Homo sapiens: one gene and its partners. The protein of the gene in region 4 interacts with the protein of the main gene of each other region in a pairwise test. Each region holds a gene or a part of one and is shown on either strand. Other genes may lie near its edges.

Region 1 (4,011 bases), on a different chromosome or scaffold from region 4:
TTATAGATTGCAGAGTATAATCATTAACCCTGTCAGACATGATCGTATGTTTAGGAGAAGGCAAAGAGTAGGTCATTTATCTTTGAAGGAATGTAGTGACTCAGGCAAGAGATTTGGAGGGCAGGGGTGTTTTGTTTTGTCTTTAAGGCATTTTTTTCTGGAGAGCTGTATTTTGTTTTTTTGTTTTATTTTGAGGCAGAGTCTTGCTCTGTCATCCAGGCTGGAGTGCAGTGGCACGATCTCCACTCACTACCACCTCTGCCTCCTAGGTTCAAGCGATTCTCCTGCCTCAGCCTCCCGAGTAGCTGGTATTACAGGCACGCGCCACCATGCTCAGCTAATTTTTGTATTTTTAGTAGAGACGGGGTTTCACCATGTTGCCCAGGCTGGTCTCGAACTGCTGGCCTCAAGTGATCTGCCCGCCTCAGCCTCCCAAAGTGCTGAGATTACAGGCTTGAGCCACCGTGCCTGGCTGAGGAGAGCTGTATTTTGTCACAGAGTCAGGGGAGAAATGAGCACATAAGCAGAAATGAGCACATAAGGCTTTTAATGTTTGTGACATTCTCATCTCACCGGTAAAATAATGTGACGTGTACTGGAAATAGAAAGATGGGTGGAGACCATCCTCTCCTAGCACCCTCAACCCAAAACCCAAGCAGCACCAGCAGCCCCTGCCCAAACATTCTGTTTCTCCAAAAGCCTCCCATGATGGGCATGGCATCACCACACTGGAATTCTTCTTAGGTTCTTTATTAGTTTTTCAGCACAGTTAACTCTTTCTACGTTGACTAGAGTTTTGTTTTACATTTTATCATCTCATGACAGCAGCCACCAGAATACACAAAATTAGGCTCTTTACTTTGTGCGGAGAAGAAAATAATAAACATTAAAAGTTCACCTTGACCAAAGAGACAACCTCCAGAAGAACACCACACATGGGAGGACCCGATGTACACACACACACACACACACACACACACATATAATGTATAGATATTTATAGATACATCTGGAAACAGCAAAAAACAAAATTCCAAGATTTGCAGTGTTATCTACAGTAAGAGGGATGAATTCTACCAGCTTTCAAACAGTCACATTCAGTATTCAGAAGAAGCACATGAGGGGGTAGAACTGGGCAGAAACTAACACGCCACCAGGCTAGTCATGGCTTAAGATTATAGAAGGGGGGTGATGTGTGTAGAGGAAATACGCATATAGGTGTCCTCTCAGCCTCAGAACACCCGCCACAACCCTTCCCCCGTCCACAGCCCTGCATGTTTTCACTGCTCTCTCCCGTTTTGGGGTTTGTGATTATTGATTTAGGGTCTGAGACAAATGGCTCTGGTTTCTGGGCCGCAAGATGCTATGGGGTAAGGTGAGTGGATGGAAAGCATACAACGCAGTCCTGGGCTTCAGGGGACAGCAGGAGGCTGGGGTGTAGGGGAAGCCTTTCTCTTCTACCTGACCCTTGTTCATGTCCAGAACCTTCAGCCCCCAGTAAGCCCCAGCCCAGGCGGCTATGGGGTGTGGGACTGTAGAAGCCTCGCTGCCTTGGGCCAGTTGACTAAATAAACTCTCTCTTCCTTAGTGATGCGTCCGGGACACACTGGCACAGCCTGGCCAGAGCTCTGCCTGAAACACCACACTGCTACTGATGGCGTTGCCCTCTGGGGAACCTGGGGGCAAAAAAGGGGTCTCCAGGAACTCAGCTACCCCTGCCTCTGGCCACCTGCGGGCTCCCAAAGGCAGTCACCACGAAGTTCTCAGGGGCACACACACCACACATGGGCTCTCTCCTCCTTCTCCCTCACCCCCAGTCAGGTCACTGTGGGGACAGAGGACCAGGCAACTTCTGCCTCGGGGAGGCCTTGGCTCAGAATTGGGACAGGGCCAGGAGGTGGCAGAGTGTGGGCTGGAAGGGACAGTCTGTGGGGTTCCTGCCCTGACGGTTCTCCATGTTCTGTCTTCCTTGGGCAGAGAAACCCCTTGACGCCCCTGCCTGCGTGGCCCTACAGCACCAGCTGGGCCCAGAGAGCACCAGGAAAGTGGCTGCCTGGTCCGAGCGCCCCCTTGTGGCTGTTGTCCAGATGATTGTCACATGTGCTATGAGACAGAAACAGGTGTGCTTGGTGGAGGGTGGGGGAAGGGGTCTCCCAGGGCTCCCACGCCAGTGCCTGAGCTGGCCCCGCACCCCTGTGGCCCAGCACCCACCCTCTCGAAGCCTCTCTCATCTCCAAACATGCCTGCCCAAGGGCTCACCCAGGAATGGCCTGGATCCGTAGCGAATCTCCCTCCCTATGGCCCTGCCCTTCTGTGCCTGGGCCGCCGGGAGTGGGATGAGAGGGGTCAAGTTGGCTAAGTTACCACGGAGAGTGAGATGGGATGAGGAGGACTGAGCCCCTTAAAACACCTGGAGACTGTTCTGCTGCAGCATCTAAGATCCCCTCATTTTTTTCAAACAGAACCCCATTTCCTCCCCTTTGCCCTCACAAAAATAAACTAAAGGGAACATGAGCCGGCGCAAGGATGGCGGTGGGGCCTCGACGTGGGCGTCGTCAGCGGGATCAAGGGCTTCAACAGGACACCTCCATGGTGTGGTTGACCTGGCCCAGCCCCTCGCTGCTCTCTGAGTGGGTGCAGGCCTGTGGGCGGCTGCCATCCACCGAGCTGGCACTGGTGAGGGATGCAGTGCGGGAGCGTGCCAGGCGGGTCATGCTGGCTGAGGGCACTGTGGACAGAGACAGGATGGGCCTGAGGACTGGCGGGCAGGGCCAGGTGCCTCTGGTGGGAAAAGTAGGCTGCAAGCAAAGCGGCCAGCGAACCGTTCCTCGAAGGCACAAAGGGCTCCTCCTGAGTCAGGAGGCTGGCGACAGCTGTCGGGCTGGGGGCATGCAGGGCCGGCGACAGTGAGTGGGCCTAGGGGGCTGCGGCCAGCAGCTGACCAGGCAGCCCTGAGCTGGTGCAGGGAGGTGCTGGGTTTCCAGCCGTGCCTCCCTCAAGAGGATGCCAGTGGAGAAGTAGGACTGTTTCTGTAAAGGAGGACGCGGAGCGGTGGTCGCATACTGCCCTCAATTCAGACTGTGCCCTAATTCCCTAATTCAGAGTTTCACAAGCAAGACTTGCGGGCAGCAAACTCTACCCTCCGGAACTCTCCTGGCCACCTATGTGGCTCAGGCAGGGCCAGGCCTGGGCTCTACCTCTAAGGAGGGTCTGTTTCCTATCCCCAGAGCTCTGGAAGCCACGCAGCTCATGACAACCTAGAAGCAAGACTGCTCTGCAACCCAGCCAACCTAGAGGCCAAGCCTGCAGAAAAGCAAGAATCTGTGGGGTTTCTGAGTTGAACAGGACACAAGAAGGTTCCAAACCACAGCAAGATGCGGCCTGGCTGCAGCACACTGCGCAGAGGAAGGAGCGGGGGAGGAGGAGGCTGGGCGTCCATGCATCAGGGGAAGGGCCGTGGGGCTACCTGCTCCTCCACTCAGCCTTCGGTCCTTCAAGTACGCAACTAAGAGAGAAGACAGAGCCGGAGAGGGGGCGGGGATGGGGGAGACACAACACAGTGAAGAGCGTGGTCCGCTGAGTCAAGGGCATTGAGATGAGCCAGAGAGATGGGACAAAGGACAGGCACAGAGAGGCTGGGGGCAGGGCCAGAGGCTTCTGGAAGCCCACTCCTGCCTGCCCACCCAGCAGTGGCCCCCAGAAGGATCTCTGGCCCAAGGAAGCCCTGACAGGTGGGGTGCTTATCCCCTCACCATTCTCCTAGGCCTCAGTCTCCTGCATACAGAATGGGGGAGGCCTGCCCGCTCTGTGCCCTTCCCAGCTTGGGGCTGCCTGGTGGAGTTTCTCCCCAGGACCCTGAGAACGCGTCTCAGCGCCTGACAATGTTCTTCCGTTCACCTCGCAAATGCTTGCTGTGCCCTGATTCCAGACTCTGTGCTCCTGCGGAGCCTCCCTGTGGGCCCTAGGGCTCTGCCCTGCTCCAGAGAGCATTCTATTCCTGGGTGTCCTCCC
Region 2 (7,038 bases), on a different chromosome or scaffold from region 4:
TGAACCTTGGAGACTCTAACAAAGGCCTACTTACAGATCTTCTCCTTGGTGCTCCTCTGTGGCCTCCAGGGAATCCTGTCCTCTGGGTTGGCCTGTCCCCTGAAAACCTGAAGGAGGAAGTGAGAGGGTACTCAGGGTACAGCCGGCCAGCAGAGGTCGATTCTACAGGACTGACAGTAGGGAGGTGAGGCCAGACTCTGTGGAGTCCTATGTGTCCTGTGGCAGGTGGGGCCCTTGGTGTGCATTCAGGGCAAACATTCACTGCTGGCACACCCTGTGCATCCTCTGCTCTGTGACCTGAGGATACTGTCTCAGACCAAGGCCTCACTGCCTGGTTCCTGGAGCTCCAGGAAGAGGAATCCACGGGCCCTCAGGGTGCAGACCGCAAGCACAGCCCTGGCTTCTCAGTGCTACCAGGAGGGTGGGCTGGACTCTGTGACATCCCCACTCTCATGCAGTGGATGACCCCCTCTGTTCTCACGCAGGGCCCTTATATTTTTCCTGGCAGGGCCTGGATCCTGCCCTTTTGCTGGTCTGAGAAATCCAAATCAAGAGTTCACATCCATGATAAGGAATGGAAGGACAGGAGGGGACAAACATCTGGCCACACGTGCCTAGGTCCTTGGGGAAGGGCAGCAAGAGATATCAAAATTCATTGGAATTAATGTGTCCTGGGTGAGGTGCCCGCTTGGTCCTCACCTTGACTCCTGGCAGGGCCTGGGACGCTCCCTCTACTGACCTGAGCGCAGCCTTCTCAGACCAAGGCCTCCCCGTCCCTGACATCAATGATCCCAGGATAACGGAAGGACCTCGGCAGACGGCCCAGCCCATGCTCTCTGGGGTGACAGCAGGGGCAGGGCTGATTTCTGTGCAGTCTCCCTCAGTGTTCTGGTCCTGGGGTACCCTCAGTCCTCCCTCATGTTCCTCACCCGAACGCATGGCAGATCCTGGGACCGCTCTGTCTTTAGACCAGATGGGGGTCCCTACGTTGACCTGAGTCACCCTCTGAGAATGAGGTCCTCACCTGCCCCAGATCTGGAAACAGGAGTGAAAAGAAGCCACATCCTGGGTGAGGTGTCCAGGGCTGACCCCTTTGGTTCTGGGGTGAGGATTCCAATAGCCTTGTCTGTCTCACTCATCTTTATTCCTGCCAGCGCCTGTGCTTCCTCAACCCCCAATTCCCTGACATGAGTAGACATCCCCCCTTTACCCCAAGACCCCATCTCCCTGAGGGCCCCCCAACTTCCTGCCTGTGGTACAAGTGAGAATGGAACATACCGCCATCCCTGATCTGGTCCCCCTAGAGCTACTAAAAGGGGACAGCCAGACTGTGTGGAGTCCCTTCTTTCTGAGCCGGGGATATCCCCAGTCCTCATGAAGGGGGCACATCTTGGGCCATATGGATCCTGGAACTCCTCCCTCTGTTGACCTGAGGCCCCACTTCTCAGACCACAGCTCTGTCCTGTCACCTCAAAGATGCAGGAAATATGGGCCATATGTGGCCACCGTGCCCTGGACCTCTCAGGGCCGAGGTCCACACTGATCTGGATTCCAAGGTCCCCTGAGTCCTCCCTCCTCTTCCTCCGCGTAAGCCTTGCAGGCCTGGGTCCCACCCCCATGCTAATCTGAGTCCCCATCATTCTGATTCTTGAGGCCAGAAGTGGCAGCCTCAGTCTCAGACAGGGGTGCGGTGTCCTAGGGTGCTGGGTCCTCTGAGGCCTCCCTCATCTCGCAGTAGGGCCCTCCCTCTGCTCCCCTGAGGCCCTGTTCAAGCCCCTTCCCTCCATCAGCCCTGGATGGGGACGTCAAGATCCGAGTGCCTGGCCGCCATTCCCGTGGCTTCCGTGGGTTGACAGCAGGGATTCTGACAAGATGAGGTTGGGGGTAGGGGGTAGGTATGGGAATGTGAGTGGGGTGGCGGTGGAGATGAGGAGACAGGTGTGGGTGGGGAACCCTCAGTTCCCTCCCAGGGTCCTGACCCTAATGCCGGGCGGATGCCTGGACCTTGATGCCTGGGCCCTGCCCTCTCCTGACCAACCCTGCCCCGGTCACATAAGCTATGACTACAGATTGCCCTGTGGGTTAAGTGGCAGTGGGACGGGACGGGGGGTGGTCCAGCTGAGACATCTGTCCTGGCCGGGTGGTCCAGGGCTGGCAGCAGGGGTGGTACTGGATCATTTTGGGGCCATCTACCTGGGGTGTGTGCCTCCTCAGTCCTCCCTCAGCATCTCACCTTGCCTCCTCACAGAGCCTAAAACCACTCCCCTCAGTGGATCTCAAGCCGCCCCTCAGAACCATTAAATGAACCTGGCTTCTCTCAGATCTGTGAGGTTCAAGTCAGTGGTTTCACATCGGGCCATCCAGGGCTTCCCTGGGTTGAGAGCAGGGGCAAACCGGATTCTGCCAGAATGGGGGAGGCGATGGGAGTGGGGCACATGAGAGAGATGAGGGTGGGGTTGGGGGCAGTGAGGGTGAGGTGGCAGAAGGGTTGGGGCTGGTGCTGGGGCTGGAGGGTGGTGGTCAGGTGACGGAGTAGGAGTAGGGATGGGGGTGGAGGTGTAGCTGAGGAGATGGGGGTTGGGTGGGGAATGGGAATGCGAATGGGGTGGGAGTGGGGATTGGAGTGCAGTCTTGGGGGCCCACAGCCCTCCCTCTTGGGTGCTGATCTTGATGCCTGGCAGAGCCTGTGCCCTGCCCTCTCCTAACCAGTCCTGCCCTGGTCACAGCAACCTCTGATTCCAGAGCTTGGGGAGAAGAACCTGGTGTCTCTCAAGGCTTTTGGAGCAGGGGTCTGGGGGCAGCCCAGGCTGAGACGTCTTCCCGCGGGTGGGCCAGGGCTGGCAGCAAGGGCGGCGCTGGAATATTTGGGGCTCTCTATTTGGAGTGGCGGGGTCCTCAGTCCTCCCTCAGCCTCTCACCTTGCCTCCTCACAGAGCCTGGGTCAGGTTCCTTCGGCCGAACTCTACGCCGTCCCTCAGAATGGAAACCTCGCTTCTCTCTGCCCCACAATGCGCAAGTCAGTGGCGTCACATCCGGGCACCCGGATGTTTCCTGGCGGGAACCGGATCCTGCCTGGGTGGGGGTGGGAGTGGGCGTGGGGGTGGGGGTGGGGGTGAGGGTGGAATGGCTGGGCGGATGGGCATCAGGGTTGAGGGATGGGGTGGGGGATGTGGGGTGGGGGTTGGAATGACAATGAAGAGGGGGTTGGGTCACGGGAGTGAGCATTGGAGTGGGGGTTGGGTCACGGGAGTGGGGTCTTAGGGACCCTCAGCCCTCCTTGAGAATCCTGAGCATGATGTCTGGCAGAGCCTGGACGCTGCCCTCTCCTAAGCAGCCCTTCCCTGATCACACGAGCTCTGACTTCAGAGTCCCCAGTGGTTTAAGCAGCAAGGGGGCTGGGGGTGGCCCAGCCTGAGAAGTCCACCACCAGATGGTCCAGGACTGGCATGAAGGGATTATTTGGGGTCCTCTATCTGGGGTAAGTGGGTCCTCAGTCCTCCCTCAGCATGTCACCTTGCCTCCTTACAGAGCCTGGGCCCGCTTCCCTCCACCGATCTCAAGCCGCCCCTCAGACCGAAAACCTCGCTTCTCTCTAACCACTAATGCTCAAGTCAGTGGCGTCACATCTGGGCACCTGGGCTTCCCTGGGTTGAGAGCAGGGGTGGAACCGGATTCTGCCTGGCTTGGGCTGGGGGTGAGCGTGAAGATGTTTGGATGGGTGGCGTAAAGGGAGGGATTGGGGGTGGTAGGGGGAGGGATGCCAGTGGTGCCCCGGGGCTTAAGTCGTCGTGTTGGTGGTAGTGGGGTTGGGCGTGGGGTTGGGGGACCCTCGGTCACCCCTCAGGGTCCTGACTTTCATGCCTGGCAGAATCTGGACACCCATATTCTCTGCCGATTGTGTCTGCTTCTCTCCCACCAAGTCTCTGGCCCCCAGTCCCATGAGGTGGCAATGGGAGGGGGGGTGTGGTCGTGGTAACATTGCCAGGGTCTTCCAGGGCTGACAGGAGGGGCTGAGCTGCATTCTGTGGCCCATCTACGTCGGGAGAGTGGACCCTCTGTCCCCACTCAGGAAGGTCCTCCTCCCGGCTCCTGGCACTTTGTTGAAGTCATGGGCGGGAGATGCTGTTTCTGCCATCTCTGAGCATTTGCCCAGCTGCACCCATTGCAGAGAATGGCTGCAGGTCCCAGGCCAGGTGCTCCCTGCAGAGTGGCAGCTCCCGCGATTGTAGTGACCTCTGGGAGAAGACGCACACCTTCCCACGGGGGCTTCTCTCCAGCCAGAGCTACACTTGGCAAACCTTTTGTCCTCAAAGTAATATGTTTTACTCCCAGGCACGGTGGTTCACGCCTGTAATCCCAACAGTTTGAGAGGCCGAGGCGGGCAGATCACTTGAGGTCAGGGGTTCAAGACCAGCCTGGCCAACATGGTGAAACCCCGTCTCTACACAAAATACAAAAATTAGCTGGGTGTGGTAGTGCTCAGGAGGCTGAGGCGTGAGAATCGCTTGCACCTGGAGGCGGAGTTTGCAGTGAGGCGAGATCGTGCCATTGAACTCTAGCGTGGGCCTCGCGACAGAGTGACACTCTGTCTCAAAAAATTTAAAAAATGAAAAAGAAATACACTTTTCGTATCTTCCAAGGATATATGTAGGTAGCTGTATATATATATGTATTTATTTCTAGGAAAGAATACCTACCAGTAGTATGCATGATTCACTCTTATATCCTATTCTACTTCTTTTCCATTCTTTACGTTCTGTTGAAATAATTTTTTTTGAAACACAATTTCTCACCCACTATGTTGGTGTCTGGTTGTTATTAGTGGAACTCTTGATCCATACTGTCTTAACCAGCCCTGTTTAACTGGTGTCCTGCTGTTGCCCTAGGGCTACTAGCATCATGTTTTGAGGAGCTGCCTCAGACTGTGTAATGATGTGAAGTGGAAATTTGAAAACTTTCATTGTAACCATTTTGTCAACTGCAGTCTAGGCAGGGTACAGACCTCCCCAGTATCCCTGCTGCCACCCCCCCTCCAACCGAGACTGCAAGTGTCAAACACAATTACCAGTTCAACCATCTTCAGCATCACCCAGGGCTTTCTCTATTTTGTTGCTTAGACTTTGTTGCTGATATTGTGTCTTTCTCCTTCTTTTTCCCTTCTATAATTTTCCAGGGTTGATTTGTGAAGCAGAGAACAGCAGCCCAAATTTGATTGTCACGTTGGCAGCCACAGGTAAGACATAATTTGTACATAATTGTACATAATTGAAGCACATTTGACATTTTTACAGTGTTCTCTTTCTCATCAATGAATATGCTATGCTCCTCTATAATATGTGTGTGTGAGTGTGTGTATATATATATATATATATATAGAGAGAGAGAGAGAGAGAGAGAAAGATGGCATCTCCCTCTGTCTACCAGGCTGGAGTGCAGTGGCACTATCTCGGCTCACTGTAATCTCCACCTCCCAAGTTCAAGTGATTCTCCTACCTTAGCCTACTGAGTAGCTGGGATTACAGGTGCATGGCACCATACCCAGCTAATTTTTGTATTTTTAGTAGAGATGGGGTTTCAACATATTGGCCAGGTGTGTCTGGAACTCCTGACCTCAGGTGATCTGCCCGCCTCAGCCTCCCAAAATACTGGGATTACAGGCATGAGCCATCGCACCCAGCCTCATGTATTAATTTCAAACTCCTTTTACTTGAATCTGTCAGTATACTGTGATTGTTGCCTCTATAAAGACCTTCTGCATTTTTACTAGGCTTCTTTTCAGGTAATTCTTGGATTTTGATGCTATTGAAAAAGGCATATTGTATATTAAGTGTTCTAGTTACTGATTGCTTTCATCTGGCAAAGATTTTGATTTTGCTATTATAATCTGTTGTATACCTCATTCTGAAGGCCCATTCACTTGAATCTTCCACATGCCTACTCCTTTGAATTTTCAAGACTGATCATGTTATCACTAAACATTATATATTTTTTCCACTATTCATACTCCTTATTTATGTTGATATTTATAGCTCTGACTTTGTGTCTCAATACTGATTTAAAAGCTGGAGATAATACCTTACATCTAATTATTTTTCCTCTCTTTAATAATAAGTCCTCGAACATTTAGCATTTATGTATGTTTGCTGTTGATTTTAGTAAATGGAAATTCTCTTTCAAAAGAAGTTAACTAAATATGTTTACTTTGAACTCATATTGAATTTCCTTCAAAAGCTTTTCCTATACCCAGTGATATGAGCACTTATCTTTTTCTTCTCCATTTTGTATGTAAGGAATTACAATGAAATACGTTTCTTTTTTGTAACAATAAATCATATTTTCTTTCCTTGGGCAGAGCCTGTTTGTTCATTTAATATGCTACTAACTTATGTAGGATATGTGGTGTTATGTATGAGAGCTTCCTTGATGTGTTTTTGTCCATGGGTGGGGGTGGTCCTCATCTGGTTTTTGTATCCAAGAGGGCAAGTCTGGGAGAAGGAATTGAACGATAGTCTATATTTTGTATGCCTTGGAAGAGTTGAGGTAAGATGGTAGTTAGTTTTTCCTGATCATTTTGTTCAATCGGCCTCCAAGACTGCCTAGACTGGAACATTTGAGGGTGGCTTGAGCTATGAATATTGTACCATTTCTGTTTGTATAGTTTAAGTTTTCTTTTCCTTTTTGGACCAATTTGGAAATGTATTTATTTTATTTCTGCAAAGTGTTCAGTTTCACATAGGATTTCACTTTAAACGGTGTGAAATTTGCGATAAAAACTTTTTCTTAGGGAGCGCCTCAAAAACCTTGAATAATAGAATAACATAATGAAACCAGAACACCTGTCACTCAGCATCAACAACCTTCAATACATGTCATATCTGGTTCCAGTTTGAGGCTCACCTACTTGTATCTCAGCTGCTGGAATAATGTGGAGCAAATCTAAGACATCATTCCATTTCATCTCTAAATACTTCAATATGTTTTTCTAAAAGTTAAGAACTTTATGTTAACTAAAATCCCAATACAGTTTTCATTTCTAAA
Region 3 (6,858 bases), on a different chromosome or scaffold from region 4:
ATAGATTGTCTAAGGAGATCACAGTCGGGCCACTTTAAAACTTCTGGTGGTCTGATTCACAGCTCATGTTGGTATCTGATATCTACCATCTCCTGGTGCCTCCACTGAACTTTTTGATTTAATACCCTGTTACACAACACTAGCAAGCAATAGGAGACAAGTAAAAACACAATTTCAATTCAATGATATACGTTCTCTGTGTGGATTATGCACAGCAGGTTATAGAAACACACTGGGTGACAGGGGGCCCTACATAATCTTGAATGGGCAGAGAAAGGCTGCCAGAAATATCTGTCCCTGTGACCCAAAATATACAGAAAATAGGTTGAGGATATGGGAGTGGTAAGAAGAAAGGATATCCTGCAAAAGAGAGGAGAATGTGTAAAGGTTGGAGGCAGGAGGTATTGAAGATGTAGGTGGATCAACAAGGCTGGTGAGGTGGGAGGGCTCATCAGAAGCCACTTGCCAGAAATACCTTGAATGCACTCCAGGGCATCTGTAATTGATCCTGAGAAAAGTAAGGAATTGGAGGCGTTTTAAGTAGAGGGGTGACTGATAAATTTTCTGTTGAGAGATCATTCAGATAGCAGTGCAGAGAATATAAGAGAGGGAAATTCACTGTCAGAAGCATATTCCTTCTGAGAAGAGCATTCACTGTGAGAGGGATAGTGAGTCAGAACAGTGGAATGGAAAGTGCATATATTCTAGAAAATAAAATGGTAGAACTGCCAGAACCTGGTGACTGATTAAATATGTGTCATGAGAAGGAGGTACCAAGGGAAACACCCAGGTGTTTGTCTTGGATAACTGGATTGATGGCAGTGTGAAACAAGTATTACTGGCTAGATGTCCTAAAACTTCTTGTAAGCTAAAAGAAACTATGGAAGGGTGGAACAGTCTAGATTTGTTTTCATTCGCTGAACATAAGCCTACTTGTGACAGGCACAAGGACAGGTAAAACAAAAGAAGCTATGGGATAAGAACTGAGAGAAATATTGCCAGGCATGGGGGTGGCAGTGGGGGAGGCGGGGGGAGGTAAAAGGAAAATGACCTTTTAGGGGATTAGATCACATGAATTAGTAGTGGAACCAAGAGTCTTCATTATGACCTTCTTTCAGCAACCCTGGGCAGTGTGATGAATGATTCAGAGAGGGCAGATGTAGATTGTGGGTTGAACTCTAGCTGAAGAATAAGGAACGGTGAGAGTAAGTTTAGAGTCAAGTACAAGATGGGAAGAAATGTGGGATCAATACGAGCATCACGAAAATGCCTTCCCATAAGCACAGGCTGGAAGGGGAAGCTAGAAAAGCTAGAATGGGGCCAATGAGAGAATGCAAGGGATGGTAAGGCTGGAGGCCAAAGAATTGGGGATGAAAGAGAGAAACCAATAGGAGACAGTCATCAGAATGTCAGTGTCCAAGAGAATGGAAGCATAAAAATTCCCAATAATAAGGTGAGAATTTATTGACTGTAGCAAGTCGTTTTGAGTCAAGATCATTAAAAATATAACAACATGAATGTTGACATTCCATAAAAATGGAGTCCAAAGGAAGTCTATGAGCAGGGTTAAAGTTATGCTGGAAGTCAGGAACCACCGGAACAGGTTGGGAAAAGAGCAGAAAGTTGAAACTGTTAAGAGCTCATGGTTAGTGTCCTGGAGGAAGAGGCAGAGGAGTGGGGTGGAGTGGAGCTAAGTGCGTTTTCTTCCTTTGATTTTAGAGGTGTTGCCTTCACTAGAAGGAAACTGGTATTATCAAGAACAAACAGGTGTTGGTAGCGATCATAAGAGAAAAAAGTGTTCTAGAAAAGAGTTCTCTTTCAGCCAGGCACAGTGGCTCACACCTGTAATCCCAGCACTTTGGGAGGCTGAGGTGGGTGGATCACCAGGTCAGGAGTTCGAGACCAGCCTGGCCAACATAGTGAAACCCTGTCTCTACTAAAAATACTAAAATTAGCCCGGTGTGGTGGCAGGTGCCTGTATTCCCAGCTACTCAGGAGGCTGAGGCAGGAGAATTGCTTGATCCCAGGAGGCAGAGATTGCAGTGAGCCAAGACCACACTATTGCACTTCAGCCTAGGAGACAGAGTAAGACTCTGTCTCGAAAAAAAAAAAAAGTGTTCTTTTTCAAGCAGATAATATGTTACAATAACAGAGCGCTCATTGACAACCTTTTTCATGCCACTGGTCACTGTGGAAGCAGGAAGGAGAGGCAAAGCAAAGATGGCTGAGGATATGCAGTACAGCAAGGAGGGTGCAGTAAGAGACCCAGTTGAAAGTGTTCTCCTAGGTGGCAATGCTAAAATAAGCTCACTTGAGGCTCTTCTGAATCATTAGCCCTTCTAGAAACTCCAAGGACGTATTAAATTCACTCACTAAAATATTTTGGGCATAGCGTAGTTGCTGATCATCTCCATGATTACTTCTTTGAAGTCTTTCCTTTGAACATTTTTTAAGTGCTTACTGAGAATTCTTAGGCAGAAAATAAAACAGAAAGATCATCCCGTGCCAGAGTCTGAATACAGACAGGGCTCATCGATCAAACAAATCCATGCAGAAAACTTAAAATTTCCTATTAAATAAACACCACACATTAAATATCAGAAAGTGGTGACTAAGAGGTGGGGAGAGGAGGGATATACAGAAGGTTTCACCCACACCCTGTTTTGTGGTTTTTACCCGGATGCCACAACCACACCTATGAGTTTCACTTATTAAAATAATAGAGAAGTAGAGTAACTAGAATCTGCTGAGCAGAGCATAGTGCTAAATACAGTTCCTCAGAGACTGAACCTGACAGGCAAGGTCAGGATTCAACTTGGAGAATGTCTGATGAGATTAGCCAATGTTTTTTTCCAACGTGGTCTACCTGTGTGTGCTGATGCATGTAGATTTGGTAGATTTGCTCATCTTTAGTAGACGAGAAAATTAAGCTCATCTCCTCTGTTGAACTTACAAAATGTTGACGTTAAAACCAACGATAAAATGGAGATAAATGGGGATAAACTAGAGCAGGAAATTCGAACCATACATAGACTTAAAAAAAAAATCCCCTTAAGCCATTAAAAGGCAATAAGCAATTAGTTTTATACCAGTGAAATCAATAATTAAAAGTTCTACTTAAAAAAATATAACCCATGCAACATCGTGTGTCCACTGAGCAGTGATAGGCGCCTGTGTAAGGAAAAGAGCTCTCATCATATCAGCTAGCATTTAAGGAGCTTACTGTGCGCTCAACTCTTTTCATGTTATATGATCTAATGTGAGCATCTATGCCGGTGGATTTCACATCCCCGTTTCACGGACGAGGACACCTCCGGTGACCTGCAGGGACCCCGCGCCAGTGGCTGCTGCAGCTGACTCATCCGACTCCCACGCGCGACGCTGCCCTAGTGGCGTTTAAAAAAATCCCACTCGAGTCCCATTTAAAACATAAGCACCCCACTTTTTAAGTGTGACTGGTGACCTCGATTTTACCTTCTGAGTCACAGCACCAAGACCTGTGTATCTGTCAAACTGAGCACAGTGGGCGAGGGCGCGCTGTGAGAGCTGGGGAGAAGACAGGTGGAGAGCACAGGTGCAAACTAAGGGGAGGGCTAGAAGGTAAAAATAGCGATCAGGGGTATGGGGGTGCGCATGGAGACGCCCGCGGAGCGCTGGCGCTGGCCAGCGGAGCAGGAGGTGAGGTCGGCGGAGCTGGGAGGACCGCGCCTGGCGGCTGCAATAGCCGCACCTGTGCACGTGATCGCGAGCGGCTCGGGCGCCAGGGCGGAGCGGCGCTCACCTGGGCCCACGTGACGGGGCGGGGCTCGAGGAGCCCCACGGCCACGCCTCCTCCCGCGCGGCGCGCCCGGAGCCCGCGGAGCTGAGCGGCGGCGGCGGCGGCGGCAGGAGCCCGGGAGGCGGAGGCGGGAGGCGGCGGCGGCGCGCGGAGACGCAGCAGCGGCAGCGGCAGCATGTCGGCCGGCGGAGCGTCAGTCCCGCCGCCCCCGAACCCCGCCGTGTCCTTCCCGCCGCCCCGGGTCACCCTGCCCGCCGGCCCCGACATCCTGCGGACCTACTCGGGCGCCTTCGTCTGCCTGGAGATTGTAAGTGGGGCCGCCGGAGCGAGGGTCGCGCGGGGAGCGAGGACAGGCGGCGGCATCCTTGTCCCCCGGGCTGTCTTCCTCTGCGTCCGCCCCCGGCCTCCTTCCCTTCGACGTGGCTTTGTCCTGCGCTCCCTCCCGGGGTCCTCTCGGTGCCCCGCGCCGCCGCCCGGGCCCTCCCTCCTAGCACCTGTTACGCGGGCACCTGCTCCCCCGCGGGCGACGGAAATTGCCTGGGGAGGGCGAGTAGGCGGCCCGGCAGGGCCGAACATTGGGGACGTGGAGGAAAGAAAGGTGTTGGGGCTCAGAGGCGCCTTTAGAAACCCAGGGCATGGCCAGGGGCCGCGCTTGGCCGGAGCGAGCTCCTGGCTCTCGGCCTCGCCTGTTGCTAACCTGCCATTTTGTTGGGTGGTGCAAAGGTGTAGCCGATGACTGGGTGACCTGGTGGCTGCCACGCTGTGGAAAGTGGGGGCGGGAGGCAACAGGAAGAGGAAGAGGGCTGAGGACTTGAACATGCTTTTTCCCCACTCACCCTTGCCATCATTAGTGGCCTTTGGATTGGAAAGAGGAGCTGGGCAGGAGGCAGGGCAAGGAGAAAGGTGAGTTATGTGCCATGCCCTGGGCAGTTTCTAATCCAGTGGGTGTGACAATGGTGGGGGAAAGATGGAAACGTGGCTCTCGAGTTCTTCTCTGCCTGCCTTTGCACCTTCTCACTTCCTGGCCTCCTTACGCAACTCCAAACCTTTTTAGCACACTTTGTTGGGCCCAAGTAAAGGTGGGGTTACCTGCCTGTCGTGCAGCCTTTTTAGGTAGCACTTGAACTTTTTAAATGGAATTTTATGGAGTTGGAAACTTTCGAAGCTCCTTGTGGACAAGTAGATAATGTGCAAATATAAATTGGGCAACCTGAGGTTGCATCATGCCTGAGAATGGCAAATAAAAAGTGAAATGTTAGCGAGTTAGTGCCTTTCCGGCAGGCTGGTATTGTTTGCTCGGTTTAGGATTTTCATCTCTCCCCTCACCCTGGCCTTTGAGCTTGCATAACCTTTATTTGGGTCGCTTTGGTTTCACTTTTGTGCTTGTGGAGCTGGATCACCTTGTGAGCACTGTTCTATTATGCTCAGGTAGCCACACCACCCTAAGTTAAGTTTAGCCCGGATTTGAATCTGAAAGAGGAGACGTGAGTGAGTTGCAGGCTATGACATCAGTAATGGGATCCTGACTGCGAGGCTGGTTTGAGTTTGAGCCTGGTTCAGAAGCATCTGAGTGCTTGGGATGAGGTGCAGGCATCCATGTGGGAAGAGCGGAGAGACGATGGCATTGGGCTGGCTGCCTTGCTGTGGGAGGGAGACACGTTTAGAACTGGAAGATCTGCAAAGAACGATTTCTTAGGTTCTCGGCTACTTTATTCCATGTTCTGCAAGCTCCAGTTTTTTGCCTACCTCTTTGAGAAGTTTTTGCCATATCCGCATTCCACCTGTACTAGAATTTACAGACAGTTCATTGAAATACTTTCTAAACTTCAGTACTTTTGTCTTTTCTTAAGCAATAATATACATGAAATTTCAAATTTGATATTCTGGTTATATTTTTCTAATGTTTATTCAAATATATGTATGTATGTATGTAAAGATACATGTATGTGTATATGTAAATATATATACATGTGTATATGCAAAGAAGGCTTATCCATATGCCCTCTAATCAAATACCATCTCAAGAACCTGTAGTCATGTCAGACTTTTAGGAAACAAGGCCTAATTCTGGGGGAAAAGAATAGAAAGTGACTTAGTCAATTTCCCCCTCCCCCTCCCCATTATATCTTTTTTAAATCTAGCCCAGAGGTTAGTTCTCAATTCTTGCTGTACTTAATAACTTGAACAGCTTTTTAAAATAACTGTTACCAGCCCAGACTAATTAAATCAGAATCTCTGGGGGAGTGCCAGAGTTCACTAGTTATTTTTTAAAGCTTCCCTGGTGATTCTAATATTCAGAGCCTAGAGAAGACAGCTCTGCTTTCAGAGATGTGAATTCTCTCTATCCGCTAAAACTGCCACCACTCCCCAACCTAGGAGGGATTCCAGACTCACAGAAGTGTCCAATCTAATCCTCTTATCTCATTTCCTCTGGCTTCTTACATCCTGAAACATGTCTCACACTCTTGGCTACGTAGAACAGCATCACTTCCAAAAGCTTATTAGTTTGCTTCTCTCTTTTTATGGCCAACTCAATAAGTTTACATTTTAGGCCCCCTTTATCTCCTTTACTTGAATATCAATCTCCCCCACCCCATTGAAAAATGACCAAAATGTTCCAATGAAACTGGTGACGTTAGAGAAACAAAACAAGAGACCACACTAGAGTCAAACTATAGCTCCTCGGCTCTCATCCTTTAGGACTGTTTAGAGATATTGGTTTACATGCTTTAAGAGAGCAGAGATCAAAGCTGGCTTGTTACCCCTCCATTTAGAATACTCATCTTGAGTGGATGTACAGATAGAAGCTAAGTGAACACTTTTGAAGCAACTTAGCTCCTAGATGTCTCAATTTCCATCTAATTTTCTGATTCTTTTAAAATTGGCCATCTCCCATGGCTCCTCCTCAGAAATTCCTCAACCTGTAAAGTAAATGTGAGAATTTCCCAGGCACTGTCCTAAATGCTAAGTGATCTCCATTCTGGGGACCCATTATTTTAACCTCTGCCGGTGTTTCTGGATATCCTCAAACTCCATTTTAATTTTGACCTTCTGTTCAAATTCGTTTGTCTTTAAGAGTT
Region 4 (7,800 bases):
GTATTTACATATTGTTTAACTAAAAACAAACAAACAAAAAAAGCAAAGTCATGTACAAGCAGAAATAAACATTTAGAATACAGAATTTGTGGAATAAACCAAAGTAGACAAAAATCAAAGAATTTATCCCTGGGGCATTCAATGACTTGATACAAGGTCACCTTCTACTTAGTTAACTGTCCTTGAGGAGTAAGGAGAGCGCAGGGGCAGGAGAGATGTCTGATCCTGTCTCCAGCAACTGATAGACCCAGGTTAGAAGTTAGATGAAGCTGCCTGCCAGTTATCTTGGTAGAAACTTCTTTCTGCATGTACTCAGATAAGACATCAGTACCCTGGGTGGTTCTCTGCAAAATTCAAGGTCTGCAGAGTCACCAACTGAAGTCTATTGGTAAACTTGCTTTTAAGCAAAACAAAACCAAATGGCAAATTAGTATTTCTATTAGTACATTTTGATAACAAAGAAAATAAAAGACAATTTAAAATTTATGTAACTTAAATCTACATTGCTTAAGAACATCTGACTGAGGAGTTTTAGAATATCCCCAATACCATGAAATAAATACAGTAATTAAAAGGCAATAGAGTTTAAATACTGGATAATGGGCTATGGCATTTTTAAAATTAGCAAAACATTTGTTTATTATTGAAAATTAGGGCTGGGCCTGGTGGTGGACATCTGTAATCCCAGCAATTTGGGAGGCTGAGGCAGGAGGACCACTTGAGCCCAAAAGGTCAAGACCACCCTGGGCAATATAGCAAGACCCCGTCTCTAAAAAAAAGAAAAAGAAAGAAAGAAAATTAATTTTCATAAAGGGCTCTTCCCTTGGAAAGAAATATTTTAGCTACAGAGAAAAACTAAGAAGCCTTGTGGAGCTCTGTGAAGTTGCACTGACTTGCTTTCACTTAGCTTGCAGCTCACTAGTGAGATTTCACATGGTACTCCCACTCCAAGAGCAGGGGCCAGGACAGGTTGGTTTCATTTTGGTTTGAATGCATATGCTTTGGCCCACAGACTTGGAGAAAGATTTTGCTTTACTGATGAGAACTCAGTCAAGGGTGCTTGGGAGCCTTCGCTGGCCCTCTAGCTGGGCCTGACATGTTGCCTGCATTTCTAGCCTTGCCTTCCCAGCTTGCCCATTTGGTGCAGGGAGATAGTCCAGCCCACCCTGAAATTCACTGTGTTCTGCGGATGAGTTAACTGAAGGGCTGTGTTTCAGGAGTGGCACAGAAAGGACCTGAATGAAAGGAAGGAGGAATGAATGGAGAGAACCATTTTGGTGGAATTGCCCTAGGGTATTAAATAGGATGGGGCAACTGGGGACTGGAGGATGTTCCTTCTCTTACGTTGCTTAGGAAACACTGTCCTTAAGAGTGTCAGTGTCATTCCTTTAACAATCATTCATTTCTTACCTCCCGCTTGTGTATAAATTTGCAGATTTACACAGACCACCAGTGTGGCCATCCCAGTGAACTGAGTTTATTGTGAAATATACATGCAAAAAAATCCTTTTTTCTCACCTACAACCAATGCAACATTATTCATACTTTGAGTTGAAGAATAAGGAGTTTAAGAAATAAATGCATACAGCAACATAACCCTGAATTATCACTCAAATACAGACCTCCCACTGCTCTCTCCCAAAAAAAAAAAAAAAAAAAAAAAAAAAAAGGCAGTTATTCTAAGCAAAAGCAAAAATTGAGGCAACTTAAAATAGACAATTTTAAATGCTGGATTCCATCATTTCTGTAAAAGGTCATTCTACTCCTTTGCTATTTATACCACAGATAGAGACACAGCAAATTATTGGCTGAATGGATTTGGGAAACCAGAAGCTGCTGCTTCTGACGAACGAAGATGATAATGCATCACTTGAGACTGAGTGGATGAAAGGTGTAGAAAAGTTGAACCCTTCAAAGATGAGAGGAAGCTGCTAAATTAGCCCCTGACTAAATTACTAGCCATAATTGTACTCAAGCCAGTTCTCTTTGCGACTGCCTTGTAATCTTTGTTGTGGCTTGAGAGAGAAAAATCCCCATTCCCAGCTCAAACCCGTTTAAGGCATCTCAGCCCAACCCCCTCCTCCCAATGCAACTCTTCATAGCCCCCTGCCCCTCCTCCAACAAATTCTAATCAAGTCAGGTATAGTTCTCAGCTTTACCACTGCCATCAGAAGCACGGCTTACATTAAGGGTTTAGCAACAAAACCTCAGGCTTACTTCAGGCAAACATTCAAAAGCATTTAAGAGAAGCACAGAAAACAAAAGAAATAAGCAAAACCTGTCCTTACCCGCTTCTTAAAAAATTGGAAGGCTGAGCATTTCTTGACTGGGAATCCATTCATGTCTTTGTTTACCATTTTCCACCGTGGGGAATTCACAGTTATAGATCCAGGTTGGCACCCGCCTGGTTAGTGCATATCTGTTTCCCCGGTTTACCTCCTGCAGACAGTTAATGAAGACTGAGCGGGATGGAGAATCTAGCGGGGCTCAGTTCTTCACTCGCGCATTCTGCAGCACCAGCTACTGCAGCAACCTCTCCCCACTTTCAGTTGCCACCGACAGCGGCTTTTCTCCTTCCATCATTGCTCCGAAACATATGCATCACCGCTGCAGGACCCTGGGGGCCGGACGGTGGGATACGGCCAATCTCCGGGGAGATGCTGTGGCTCTTACCGAGCGGGAGAAGGGTACGCCTCCCCGCCCCCAGCTACCTGGCTGCTCTTCCGCGGCCGGCGCGGGGAGCGAGTCGCTCTTCTCCAGGTGATGCGCTCCTGGAGGCGGCTTGAGAGAGGAGAGTTGTTTTTGATTGTGCAAGTTCCAGTGGGAGCTGTAGTTAAGCAGCTGAGAGAAGGAGTAAGAAAGAGCAGAAGCCAGAGGGAGGGAGGGAGAACAGCGCCAGAAAGGCAGAGGGAGCGAGAAGGCGAGGCTGGAAGAAGCAACGGTTCATGAATATCTGAGCAGCGGATGGAGAGAAGGCACAGCCGGCTCAGGGCACACTGAAGAGCAGTTGACTCCCCTTGGGAGGGTTACTTTAAATAGCTTCTTTTCTTTCTTTCTTTTTTTTTTTTTTTGGTTAGGACCATTTAAATCAGAGTTTCATATAAATTGCACACCGTTTTTATTTTATGCTCATTGACATTCTTTTGAATCCTGTTGCTGAATAAAAGCCTCTCAACGGAAATGTAATCACATTTAATCTCGACCTGTCCAAACGTGGAAGAAAATGAAATAAAGTGCAAGCGTAGGTATAACAATGGAAGATCTCTCACTATGTAGAAGCTCTTTTAGCCTCCCCTCCCCTACTTGTCATTATATAGTGGGCAATGGTGACGGTAATTGTGTCTTTTTCATTAAAACAGCTTATTAAAAAAAGAACACAATGAACATATACAAAGTACTTTATTACACACATACACACACACACGAGTTATTACCAAAAAGTACTACTGAATCCATTTAATGATGAGGAAGGTTTGATAAATAAAAGAGTAAAGCATTCTTCCTATTAGGTGAAAAATTTCCCAAAAAATCCTTACTCATGTTATCCTTTGCACACTGAGCTCCTTTTAAAAAAGCCATTTAATTGTATGTGGCTTATTTTTCCATTTTTATTCTTTAATGTTGATATTTTATGGGAATGATTTTAAAGATTAGTTGATAGTAAAGCAAGAAAGCAAAGAAAATAAACTTGGCATCTGACCTGGCAGAAAGCCACCAACATCGGTGTGTGGCTTTCTGCCATCACCTGACCTCACTGTGCCTTTCGGACACTGCCTCATCCATAAAATGGAGGCAGCCACTCATTCATTCATTCACTCATTCATTTATTTAGTCATTCATTATTTGCTATTTCATTCCATTAATAAATCTAACTCTGACAAGTGTCCTCAGGATGTGGAGCCTTTTCATAATCATCACAAGGGAATATAATTGATAAATAAGTGAAAGGCGCAATGCTAATTTGAAACTGATTATGACCTCATTATATATAACACACCTAACATTGTTAAAGTATTTACATGGAAGTCTCTGGTAAGAAGAGAAACATCAGGTTAAACTGGGAAAGAAATGCATGGGTTTCATTGAATTGGACTATAAATCTCTACAGTTGGGCCAGAGTTTTTGGGAATAAACATGAAATCCTGTTTGCTAAATGCCTTGAGGTTTCCAAAAAGAAAATGCAATACAACTAAATGATGGCATGATAACCAAGGGAAAACAACTATTCATTTTGGAGAGATATGTTAAGTTGTCCAAGATGCAAGTATATGTTATGTAATCTACAACATTGATAAGTTTTTGTGGTTCTTCTAAAGAGTTCATTTAAAATTATGGTAGTTCAAAGGGAATTATTTTGAGACGATGGAAGTGTTCTCTATCATGATGATGGTGGTGGTTACATAACTATGCATTTGTCAGAACTCATCAAATTTTATATAGGAAAAGGGAAACTTTTGCTGCATGTAAATTATACCTCAATGGACCTCATTTTAAAAAATGATGGTCATTCAAGTTCTTTCTTTTTCGTCCCATTGCCACTCCCCCAAAAGTGTTTTAACAGACATTTATTGAATTTGAGTAATATACAGGAGGGGACCTTTAAGCACTCTGCTAGGAAGGAGGTGCTGGGGCTTTGCTTAATCCCACATTGGCCTAGCATGCATACTGGTTGATATCATTTGGCTGTGTCCCCACCCAAATCTCGTCTTGAATTGTAGTTCCCACAGTGAGTGATTTCTCATGAGATCTGATGGTTTTATAAGGGGCTTTTCTCCCTTTTGCTCAGCACTTCCCCTTCCTGATGCCATGTGAAGAAGAATGTGTTTGCTTCCCCTTCTGCTCTGATTGTAAGTTTCCTGAGGCCTCCCCAGCCATGCTGAACTGTGAGTCAATTAAACCTCTTTCCTGTATAAATTACCCATCTCACTATGTCTTTATTAGCAGTGTGAGAACGGACTAATACCCTGGTTTCATGTAGGATGTATGTTCATTTGGGGTGCAGGCGGGTGGTTAATAGAGATTATGAGGGAGGAGAAGACAAGCTAAATGCTATCTTTTCCCTCACTCCATGCCACCTCTTGAAGATGCTGCCACTGTCACTTGGTCTATGCTAGATCCTATGGAAGGTCCAGTGCATGTAAGTGTCACTGGTTTTTGTCACCAAGGAACTCACAGCCTAGTAGAGAAATATACAGTGTGGTAAGAATACTATATACAGTAGTCCTCCCTTATCTGAGGTTTTACCTTCCACAGTTTCAGTTACCTAAGGTCAACAATGGTCTGAAAATCAGTGAGTACAATACGATACTTTTAGAGACACAGAGAGAGACCACAGTCACATCATTTTTATTATCGTACATTGTTAAAATTATTCTACTATTGTTGTTAATCTCTTACTGTGCTTGATTTATAAATTAAACTTTATTATAGGTATGTATGTACAGGAAAAAACATAATGTATATGGAGTTTGGTACTATCTGAAGTTTCACGCATCCATGGGGGGGGTCTTGGAATGTATCCCCCATGGATAAGAGTGTACTACTCTGTGTGTGTGTGTGTGTGTGTGTGTGTGTGTGTGTGTGTGGTGTGTATGCATCAACCCTGCCTTAATTTGGAGGGGGGAAGGGTGGGGCTGGATGGGTAAGAGAGGTCCAGGAAATTTACCTAAAGGGATGATGTTAGTGCATGGCCTTAAAGAATGAGTAGGTCAGTCAGATGAAGGAAGAGAAGTATAGGGCAGGGATTCTGACTATATCTGACAGCCAATTATTTTGGATTATCTTTTGATTGGTGCAATAATAGAGAAATGCATTAACTGCACTGTGTTGGTTATTCAGGAAAAGAAGGCATCTTTCATCTCACTCTGACCTCTATTTTCATAAGTAAAGCTGCCCTCAGGTAAGCCCAGAGTGACTACTGTTTACTAAATGTTTCCTTTGACAGGTCCACTGTTGATACCTATAAAGGAGCACAGGCTCCTGCTTATAATAATAAAAAAAAAAACTCTGGACTCATGCAACATCTTGTTTATAAATCAAACTTAATTTAATTAATTAACTCACTTCTTGTTCCCATAAAACACACTTATTTATTTTTGTAGCACCAGCACACAGCGGAGTGCCTGGGCCATGCTAGCACTCAACAAATGGTTTTCAAACGAATTAAATACAAAAGTAAGTATAGCTGACATCAGTGACCCTGGCACCAGACCATTTGCAGGAATCATTAAATACCTTTAAGATTCTTCAGTCATTAAGCTCTCTCCCATGATAGCCAATATGCTGAGCTCCAGTAAGAGCAAACGACCTCACTCCTCACCATTTCCTCTTTAAGCCTCAATGACACTGTAGCCCTGGGATGACACTTCTTTTTGATGGAAAATCCCAATGTTAAAAATAATCCCTTGGGCCAGGCACAGTGGCTCATGCCTATAATGCCAACAATTTGGGAGGCCGAGGTAGGAGGATAACTTGAGCCCAGGAGTTTGAGACCAGCCTGGCAACATAGCAAAGCCCCATTTCTACAAAAAGGAAAAAAAATAGGTGGTGTGGTGATGCATGCCTGTGGTCCAGCTGTTTAGGAGGCTTAGGTGGAAGGATTGCTTGACCCTGGGAAGTTGAGGCTGCAGTGAGACATGGTTGTTCCACTGCACTTTAGCCTGGGCAACAGAGCAAGACTCTCTCAAAATAAATAAATAAATAAACAAACAAACAAAAAGAATCCCTTGAACCTCTATTTGATTTTTTTGTGGTATACCTACTTTTCCTCCCAACAATATTGTTTAGGCTGTCACACAAAGAATAAAATAAAGTAGCTAGGTAGGACTAACTACCAATATGTACCTGCGGTGGAAAGACTGCTGTATTGATTTGGAACATCTTCTACCTCACTTCCATTCCCTAATTGTGCAACCTTCAACAAGTTCCCTCAACGCACTAAGCCTCAGTTTCTTCATCTGTAAAATAATAATAATAAAATGCTTCTTCACCTACCTCCTAAAGGAATTGTCAGTACCAAATTATATTTGAAAGGGTTTTGCAAAGTAATAAATAACTCTACATTTCTTTGTTTCACTAAAGCAAGAGGCATATGCCACTGTAATACTTTTTAGAAAGTCTATCTTCCCATAGATTAAAGTGTTTTTGTGTGATACATTTAGTTGTTGAATGGAATGTAATTTTTTTCGATAGCACCCCAGAATACACAAAAGATAACAAACAATAAAGTATCTGTTTAGTGACAAATGTCCCTAAGGAGAAAGGGATAAAAATACATCACCTCATGAGAAATGTTTTACATTCCTTTTTGGCCTGAGTGACTCGATCATATGCTTAAAACTCCAGCCACAGTGGTAGTGATGTATTTAATGAAGAATTAGGAAACCCTGCTGGGGATTATGGGTTTGTTTTTGTACATGCAAAAGACCCTTTTTAATTTTATTTTATTTGCTTTTTTGAGAAAGGGTCTCTCTCTGTCACCCAGGCTGGAATGCAGTGGTGTGATCATGACTCACTGCAGCCTCAACCTCCTGGGCTCAAGCGATCATTCCACCTCTGCCTCCCGAGTAGCTGAGATTACAGGTGCGTGTCACCATGCCCAGCTAACTTTTGTAGTTTTTGTAGAGATGGGGTTCCACCATGTTGCCCAGGCTGGTCTCAAACTCCTGAGCTCAAGCGATCTGCCCGCCTTGGCCTCCTAAAGTTCCGGGATTATAGGTGTGAGCCACCAAGCCTGGCCAAAAGTCCCTTTTTAAAAAAATTTGAAATTTTTTGGTTTTACCAAATTAGATCTTTTTTCAC

What was found.
Region 1: the proteins of SGK1 (region 4) and NDRG4 interact in binary tests that used the Homo sapiens proteins (3 or more experiments, as listed by UniProt).
Region 2: the proteins of SGK1 (region 4) and MAGEA1 interact in a two-hybrid assay, tested with the Homo sapiens proteins (one study listed by BioGRID and IntAct).
Region 3: the proteins of SGK1 (region 4) and MAL2 interact in binary tests that used the Homo sapiens proteins (3 or more experiments, as listed by UniProt).

What each region holds. Positions count from the first base shown.
Region 1 is NC_000016.10:58,510,139-58,514,149, reverse strand, and holds the end of NDRG4 (protein NDRG4), read right to left. Parts: intron 3,506-4,011; coding exon 3,467-3,505; intron 2,729-3,466; coding exon 2,574-2,728; 3' UTR 531-2,573; downstream 1-530. UniProt on the Homo sapiens protein: Contributes to the maintenance of intracerebral BDNF levels within the normal range, which is necessary for the preservation of spatial learning and the resistance to neuronal cell death caused by ischemic stress.
Region 2 is NC_000023.11:153,175,246-153,182,283, reverse strand, and holds the start of MAGEA1 (melanoma-associated antigen 1), read right to left. Parts: upstream 3,001-7,038; 5' UTR 2,919-3,000; intron 108-2,918; 5' UTR 35-107; intron 1-34.
Region 3 is NC_000008.11:119,204,520-119,211,377, forward strand, and holds the start of MAL2 (protein MAL2), read left to right. Parts: upstream 1-3,843; 5' UTR 3,844-3,953; coding exon 3,954-4,085; intron 4,086-6,858. UniProt on the Homo sapiens protein: Member of the machinery of polarized transport. Required for the indirect transcytotic route at the step of the egress of the transcytosing cargo from perinuclear endosomes in order for it to travel to the apical surface via a raft-dependent pathway.
Region 4 is NC_000006.12:134,315,104-134,322,903, forward strand, and holds the start of SGK1 (serine/threonine-protein kinase Sgk1), read right to left. Parts: upstream 3,010-7,800; 5' UTR 2,358-3,009; coding exon 2,289-2,357; intron 1-2,288. UniProt on the Homo sapiens protein: Serine/threonine-protein kinase which is involved in the regulation of a wide variety of ion channels, membrane transporters, cellular enzymes, transcription factors, neuronal excitability, cell growth, proliferation, survival, migration and apoptosis.